2 linked regions of the Homo sapiens genome follow. The protein of the gene in region 1 interacts with the protein of each later gene in a pairwise test. Each region holds a gene or a part of one and is shown on either strand. Other genes may lie near its edges.

Region 1 (3,649 bases):
AAGACCCTTGGCGCTCTCAGTCCCGAACAGCCACCCCCAGTGGCCAGTCTCCTCGCCGAACTAGTCCAGGAGGTCTCCGGCCTCTGCGGCAGCCCCTGGGGATGCAACACCTTCCCTTGCACACTCACATACACCCAGGGTGGGGTCTAGAGGACAGGGGAGAGTTTTGCAGAGAGGGTCAGCCCTCTGGAACTTTGCAAAGGTGGGGCCAAAGGCAACTAGGGGGCTTTATTCCAGACTGCCATCCGCGGGTCGGGGGAACTGCAGGGCCTCCTGGGATCAGGCTTTTCTGCCAGCAGCGAGATGACAGTGTGGTCCCACACAGGGCCACATCCACGGGGGCCTCCCAAGGGCTGCGGGGCCAGTGGCCTCTCAGGCAGGGAGGACTCAGGACTACATGTGCGCTGGGGGGCGTGGGAGGGGCGGCCTCGGTTACTCCTGTCCAAAGCCCTCGGTCTCCTCAATGGCATACAGCAGCTTCTCTCTCAGCTGTTCGTAGCTCTTGTAGGGTGGAAGATCCAGACGGTTGAAGCTATTGAGAGTGGGGAAGCACGACAGTCAGCCCTAGGAGGCCAGGGCTCTGATAGCCCCACCATGCCTGCCTGCAGCAGGGCCACAGGGCTTGCACCACACTGGCTAGGGCTCAGGGGCTGCCAGTCAGGCCTTCACATTGCAGGTGCCTGGACCATGGGGTGTTAAGGGAGGGGCCAGGACAGCTGGAAATTGGTTGCGGGGGACACTTGGGGCAGTAGCTCTTGGACTACTGGAACAGAAGTGCTTCATATGTAAAACCCGGTAGATCAGATGCCCATCACAGCCCCATCTCTCCAACCCAACACCCCAGGGCCACGCAAAAGCTGCCAGACTCGAGGCTATGAAGCTGCTACACCCACTGGGCTGTCCCAGGAGCTCATCGGGTCTGAGGCCCCCCGACCTCCCACTAAAACCAGCAGGCTCACCAGGTGTGGCTTCTGGGCAGCCAGGTTTCCTTGCCAACTTTGTCAATGCAAAACTTCTGTGGTCCGTTGCTACCTGTGATCCAAGGTAAAACACGCCGACGTCAGCAGAGACGTCCCTTCCCAAAGCAGGATCCTCCGGCTCCACCCACAGATGGGCTCGGCCCCAGGATGCAGAGGCCACAGCTCTTCTCCATCCCACTGACGTGCTTCCAGGAAGAGACTAGGTTTCCCCCTCCCTCTGAGCTGTCCGCACTGCCAGCCAGGACGCCAGAGGGCGAGAGAAAACATACCGATGAGTTCGGCAAATCCCCCGACGGGCAGGCGGCAGGTACCGGTGACAAACTGCAGCAGCCGGATCCTCTTCTCGTTGTCCATCTCCTTCACCACCTGGAAGTCCGCAAGTCAAGGCACAGTCAGGCAACCCACGGGGCCCAGTACTTTGCCCGAACGTGGAGCTCTCTAGCTCAGCGGGGCCCCTCTTTGGGGCTGAGAACACAAAGCCAGGTTGGCCAGGGGATGACAGCCTCCAACCTGAGAAACCCCAGAAGTGCTTTTGCTAAGAGGCTGTGTGTGCATGAGATTCCCACCAGTCCATGGGACATCTCTGGGTCTCAGGGACACCTCAGGCTGGGTATTCTCTTCCCATCCACGTTCTGCTTTTAGAGATGACTAAATATGGGAGTGACTGCTTAATGGGTATAAGGTTTTTGGGGAGATGAAATGTTCCAGAATTAGATAGTGGTGCCAGGTGCACAACACTGTGAATGTACTGGAAGCCACTGCTCTGTCGCCCAGGCTGGAGTGCAGTGGCACGGTCCAGCTCACTGCAGAGCAGTGGCACGGTCCAGCTCACTGCAGTCTCCACCTCCCAGGTTCAAGTGATTCTCATGCATCAGCTTCCCGAGTAGCTGGGATTACAGGTGTCCACCACCATGCCTGGCTAATTTTTTATATTGTTAGTAGAAAGAGGGTTTCACTATTTTGGCCAGGCTGGTCTTGAACTCCTGACCTCAAGTGATCTGCCCACCTCGGCCTGGGTGGGAAGCCAAGGAACCCAAAGTGGAAAGCCACTGAATTGTGTATCTTAAAAAACTTAAATGGGTTGGGCACAGTGGCTCACGCCTGTAATCCCAGCACTTTGGGAGGGTGAGATGGAAGGACTGCTTGAGCCCAGGAGTTCAGGACCAGGCTGGGCACCATAGCAAGACCCTGTCTCTATTGAAAAAAAAAAAATTAATAGTTAATTGTATGTTATACAAATTTCACCTCCACAAAAAATTTGTATACGTACATATGCACACAGACATGTACTAAGAATACCTGTAATCGCTATTTTTTTTTGTATGCTGTATTTCATAACGACAACAACAAAACCCATACGTATAAAAGAATCAACACATTAATTATACATAGGATGACAGCTCTTTCTGGTTTCTGGAGCCAAGCCCCTGCCTTCCTGTCCCATCTGGCTGGCAGGGGACCTCTCAACCAGTGGCAGCTGCTGTCTGCCTGCAGGTCTGTCCCTGCACACCAGCTGGCCCAAGGCTGACCACTGACGACCTCCTGTCACATCCACTGGCCACCACTCAGCTGGAACTGTCCCCGTTCATCCCAAGGCTGGTCTATCGTCTCCTTTTGCAAGGTGTGGGAGGCAAGGACAGGGCCAAAGCTGAAGGTCCTTGCGCGTGAGGCCTCCTCAGGACCCGTTTCCTTTGGTTGATGGCCCAAATGTCCCTGCCAAGGCCTGGGCCCGGGACCCACCTGCCAGAACCACTGGATCTGCTTGCTGTTCTTGGTGTAGTGCCGGTAGATGGTGCTCTTCTGCCAGTCGCTCATGTCTATCTCCTGCATGCCGCACAGCATCAGCTGGGGAGAGGCGGCAGTCAGCATCCCCGGCAGGTCCCTCCCCGCGCATCGTCCACTCGCTAGCACTTGACATTACCCCAAACATATTCAACTAGCTATTTTTGGTGTCAGCGTTAATAATATGGGTAATGTAAGTCCCTGCTTTCTTGAAACAAGTGTCTGGGGAAGGGTGGGTCCCAAATCAAACCCATCTGCCCTGCCGAAGTGGGAGTTTTACGCTGAGTGTCTGTGGGTACACAGTGAGCGTATCACAGAGCAGGATCGCCCCAGAGGCAGGGGCTCAGGGTCCCAGCAACCTCAGACACTCACCTCCAGCTCTTTCTCGTCAAAGTAGCGCAGCCACTCCAGCGGGGCCACCTCGTTGAAGCCATCCAGGAAGGCTTTGGTCTGCTCTTCCACGCCTCGGGTGAAACGCCAGTCAGTCAGCAGCCTGAGACCAAAGAGCAGCCATGGGTGGAGTCTGAGACCCACTGCTCAGGGGTGGCTCCCGGCCAGGCCGCGTGGCCGTTACCGCGCAGGACCACCAGATCAGCAGAGCCCACTTCGCACACCCAGACCCAGCCTGCTGGAGGACCTAGAGTGAGGCCCTGAAAACCTCACAGTGACCTGCAGACACCGGAGTCTTTGAAATCATCCTCACCACCACCTCCTCCTGCTCCTGCCCCCAGCGCCGACTGAACCTCAGACGTATGGAAGCGTGGAGATAAAGACTAAAGCAAGAGGCCTGAGGAACAGGCACGGAGAACGGGCACACGTGAGACGGTGGGTCTAGGCACACAGGCCACAGAGATCCTTTCGGCCCGGAGAAAGATGCAGATGTCTCA
Region 2 (3,649 bases), on another chromosome or scaffold:
AGAAAATAGTGTCTCTTTTTTTTTTTTTCAGGCACAGATGTTAAAGATGCCAAGGTGATAAGTGTTTCTACAGGAACAAAATGTATTAATGGTGAATACATGAGTGATCGTGGCCTTGCATTAAATGACTGCCATGCAGAAATAATATCTCGGAGATCCTTGCTCAGATTTCTTTATACACAACTTGAGCTTTACTTAAAGTAAGTTTAGTAAACAAATAAGGACAGGAAGCTCTTTTTAAAAAATATTCCTCTATTAGAAAACATTGCAAAACCTTTCATTGTTTCTGTAATCATGGAAAATCTCTCAAAATCATAACTTTAATTAGTAACAATAAGGCTGCATCCCATTCTTCCACAATGCTCAACACACATATGCACACATACATACAATAACATAACATGGTCATAAATTTCAAGTCTGTGTTTAAGACCATGTGATTTTGTTGTATGCTGTATAAATAGAAGTTCCCAAACTGCCAGGTAAAGATGGTAATTTTTATTCTAGTCACCGTTTCTAGAAAGAGCTAGTCATGTATCCAAACTCCTTTTCTTTACAAAGCCATTTTTTGTATGTGGTCTTTCTGTTCTGAAGTCATAAATTGGAAGAAGGAAAGGTTACTCACATCCTGATGACATATCCATTATTGAGTGACAAGAACTGTATTAATTACCCTAAACATGTAAAATAAATATTCCAGTTCAAACTTATCTTTCCCTTGTGGAAAATACTAGCCTCTGAAAATGATAGACTAAAATTTAACTATATACAGCTTTAAATGTTACTTTTGCAACTTTTTTCCTTTCAGTAACAAAGATGATCAAAAAAGATCCATCTTTCAGAAATCAGAGCGAGGGGGGTTTAGGCTGAAGGAGAATGTCCAGTTTCATCTGTACATCAGCACCTCTCCCTGTGGAGATGCCAGAATCTTCTCACCACATGAGCCAATCCTGGAAGGTATGAGACGAGATTCTTCAACAAGCCAGTTTCTCAAGAAAATGTTAACAGATAAAAACTAACCTGTGTTAATATCCCTTTTCCTTTTTTTCTTTTTATTTTTAGACTTGGATGTGGATCTGATAAGAGTCTCTATAAAAGCATGGATTTTTTTCTTTCCAATTAACTTAATTAGAAAACTTTAATGAATGAAAAATGCTGATTGTAATTAACCAAGTAATTAGAATGGAGTGAGAATATTGGATTAAAATTGTATCAGTATTTAAATTTGGGTAATAAATATCTCTAAATCAGAGGTGTATGTGATCCTCCATATTTCTGAGGAATTCTAATTTGCTAAATGTGTAATTAAAGTATTTATTTGCCTGATATTTCAGAAGCAGATAAACACTAGTGAAAAGTGAAACCACTATTGTGATCATATTTTTTTCCATCCTTCTTTACATTTGAGGTTAGCACTTTTGTTTTTTAGTGTTTTGTATCTACATCCCTTCTCCCAAGCCCTTAGGCATTGTTTATTCCAAATAGAACGTTTTATTACATTACTTTCCTTGTTTATAAAAGCAACAGGCATACTCACTGTGGAAAATTGCTAACTATTTTTAAAATATAAGAACATTAAAATCATCCGTATTCCTGTAACCCAGAAATACTCACTATGGATGTTTTACCATACTTTCCATGGGTTTATTTCTGCATCTGTCTAGATTTATTTTGGAAATTTTAAAAATATAGAGGAAAATAACATGGCAAACACCCAAGTATCCATCACCCAGAATTAGCAAATGTTAGCATTTTGTCCTATTTGCTTCAGTGCATTTTTAATGATAGAAATAAATCATTTCAGTTAAAGTGAAAACCCCATTTCCCCAACTCCCTTGGAGACCACTTTTGTGAATTTTGTTTGTGTTATGTCCTTCCTACTCAATTTCATATAATTTTTTTTTTTTTTTTTTGAGACAGGGTCTCGCTCTTACACCCAGGCTGGAGTGCAGTGGTGCAATCATGGCTCACTGCAGCCTCGACCTCCTGGGCTCTTAAGCGATCCTTCCACCTCAACCTTCCAAGGAGCTGGGACTACAGGCATGTACCACTATACCTGGCTAATTTTTATATTTTTTATAGAGATGGGGTTTCACCATGTTGCCCAGGCTGGTCTTAAACTCCTGGGCTCAAGCGATCCACCTGCCTCAGCCTCCCAAAGTGCTGAGATTACAGGTGTGAGCCACCATACCCAGCCTCTCAGCTTCACATACTTATTTTGTATGTGTATTTTGTATGTATGGCATAAACATATGCATTTATATGCACAGACTGTATTTTAAATTTATAAGCTATTGTTAGATGTGCTTTTCAATAAATCAAATAGATGGTTTACTACCTGTGGGGTTTTAACTCTTTTTCTCTCTTAGAACCAGCAGATAGACACCCAAATCGTAAAGCAAGAGGACAGCTACGGACCAAAATAGAGTCTGGTGAGGGGACGATTCCAGTGCGCTCCAATGCGAGCATCCAAACGTGGGACGGGGTGCTGCAAGGGGAGCGGCTGCTCACCATGTCCTGCAGTGACAAGATTGCACGGTAAGGGGCGGGGGCTCCCTGTGGCCACCTCCCTGCACACAGGATTCATCCATACTGTTTGCCAACCTCCCTTTTCCACAACCATTTGAATTTTGGCCCCATTTCCCACTCAGGTGTTCCACAGTATTCTTTGAAGGACTGAGGTTCTAAACAGGTGCTGCTGGGACCCCCGTGAGGGGCAGCAGCAGGACCTAGACACAGGAGGCTCCACGCTTCTAACATTCCTATCCAAGCGTCTCAGAGTTTACCACTTATTTTTAACGTGGGCTTCTGGGTTAAACTGATGTTTTTAATGGGCTACAGGCCATGACATCTTAAAACTACTGGCTTCTCCTCATTAGTAGTAGATGCAACTTCAGTGGTCACTTTCATCATTCAGTTAACATTTTAGGTAGTTGATATGTGCATTTTAAAAGTAATGCAAACCCTGTCACAGGCATTGTGTTCTAAGCACAGAGAGCATCCCCAGCCATTCTGTGCCTGGGTGTGGGTTAGGCTTAGAGGAGGGCTCTGCAAGCACACTTCTGTAGTCAGCAGGCACCTGGGAGATATTCATCTTTCAGAGGCCTGTATCCAGAGCAGATTATAGAAAACCCATTTCTTCAGATGGTATCAGTTCCAGTAGTTCTTTGTTTTCATTTTTAAACTAATGTTTATTTGGAAAAAAAAAGTAACATAAGCAGATGGCAAAAAGCATACAATGATAAAGTTTAAAACCTCCCTCTTCAGAGCCCTCCTGTGGCACCCACAGTGAGTGGGTTTTGACTGTCCATCCAGAAGCTGTCAAAATTGATGCATACGCATGTGCACGTGCACATCTTTTCATTGTTTGTGTGCCCTTTATGTTGATTTCCTTCAGTGGGTCTTGTCAGGCAACCTCAAGTACAGGGAGCTGGATTAATCACACATTTTGGGCCATTGCCCACAGCCCAGGTGACCACTGTGATGTGTTTATTTATTATTTGTCCTTCCAGTCCACCTCCACACGTGCATATGTCAACTTTGTGTGTGTGTGATGTGGGGGAGGGGGGTGTACTCTTGAAAAATACACAATAGAATTATTTGGAGTATTTGTTGCTAATTTACAGAAATGATACTATGCTGTAAATCC

Evidence for each region. Proteins that work in one complex are often made in the same cells at the same time.
Region 2: the proteins of WWP2 (region 1) and ADARB1 interact in binary tests that used the Homo sapiens proteins (3 or more experiments, as listed by UniProt).

Annotation. Positions count from the first base shown.
Region 1 is NC_000016.10:69,936,724-69,940,372, reverse strand, and holds part of WWP2 (NEDD4-like E3 ubiquitin-protein ligase WWP2), read right to left. Parts: intron 3,256-3,649; coding exon 3,135-3,255; intron 2,826-3,134; coding exon 2,721-2,825; intron 1,347-2,720; coding exon 1,250-1,346; intron 1,033-1,249; coding exon 960-1,032; intron 533-959; coding exon 433-532; 3' UTR 1-432. UniProt on the Homo sapiens protein: E3 ubiquitin-protein ligase which accepts ubiquitin from an E2 ubiquitin-conjugating enzyme in the form of a thioester and then directly transfers the ubiquitin to targeted substrates.
Region 2 is NC_000021.9:45,182,554-45,186,202, forward strand, and holds part of ADARB1 (double-stranded RNA-specific editase 1), read left to right. Parts: intron 1-31; coding exon 32-200; intron 201-808; coding exon 809-957; intron 958-1,920; coding exon of another isoform or gene 1,921-2,040; intron 2,041-2,369; coding exon 2,370-2,538; intron 2,539-3,649. UniProt on the Homo sapiens protein: Catalyzes the hydrolytic deamination of adenosine to inosine in double-stranded RNA (dsRNA) referred to as A-to-I RNA editing.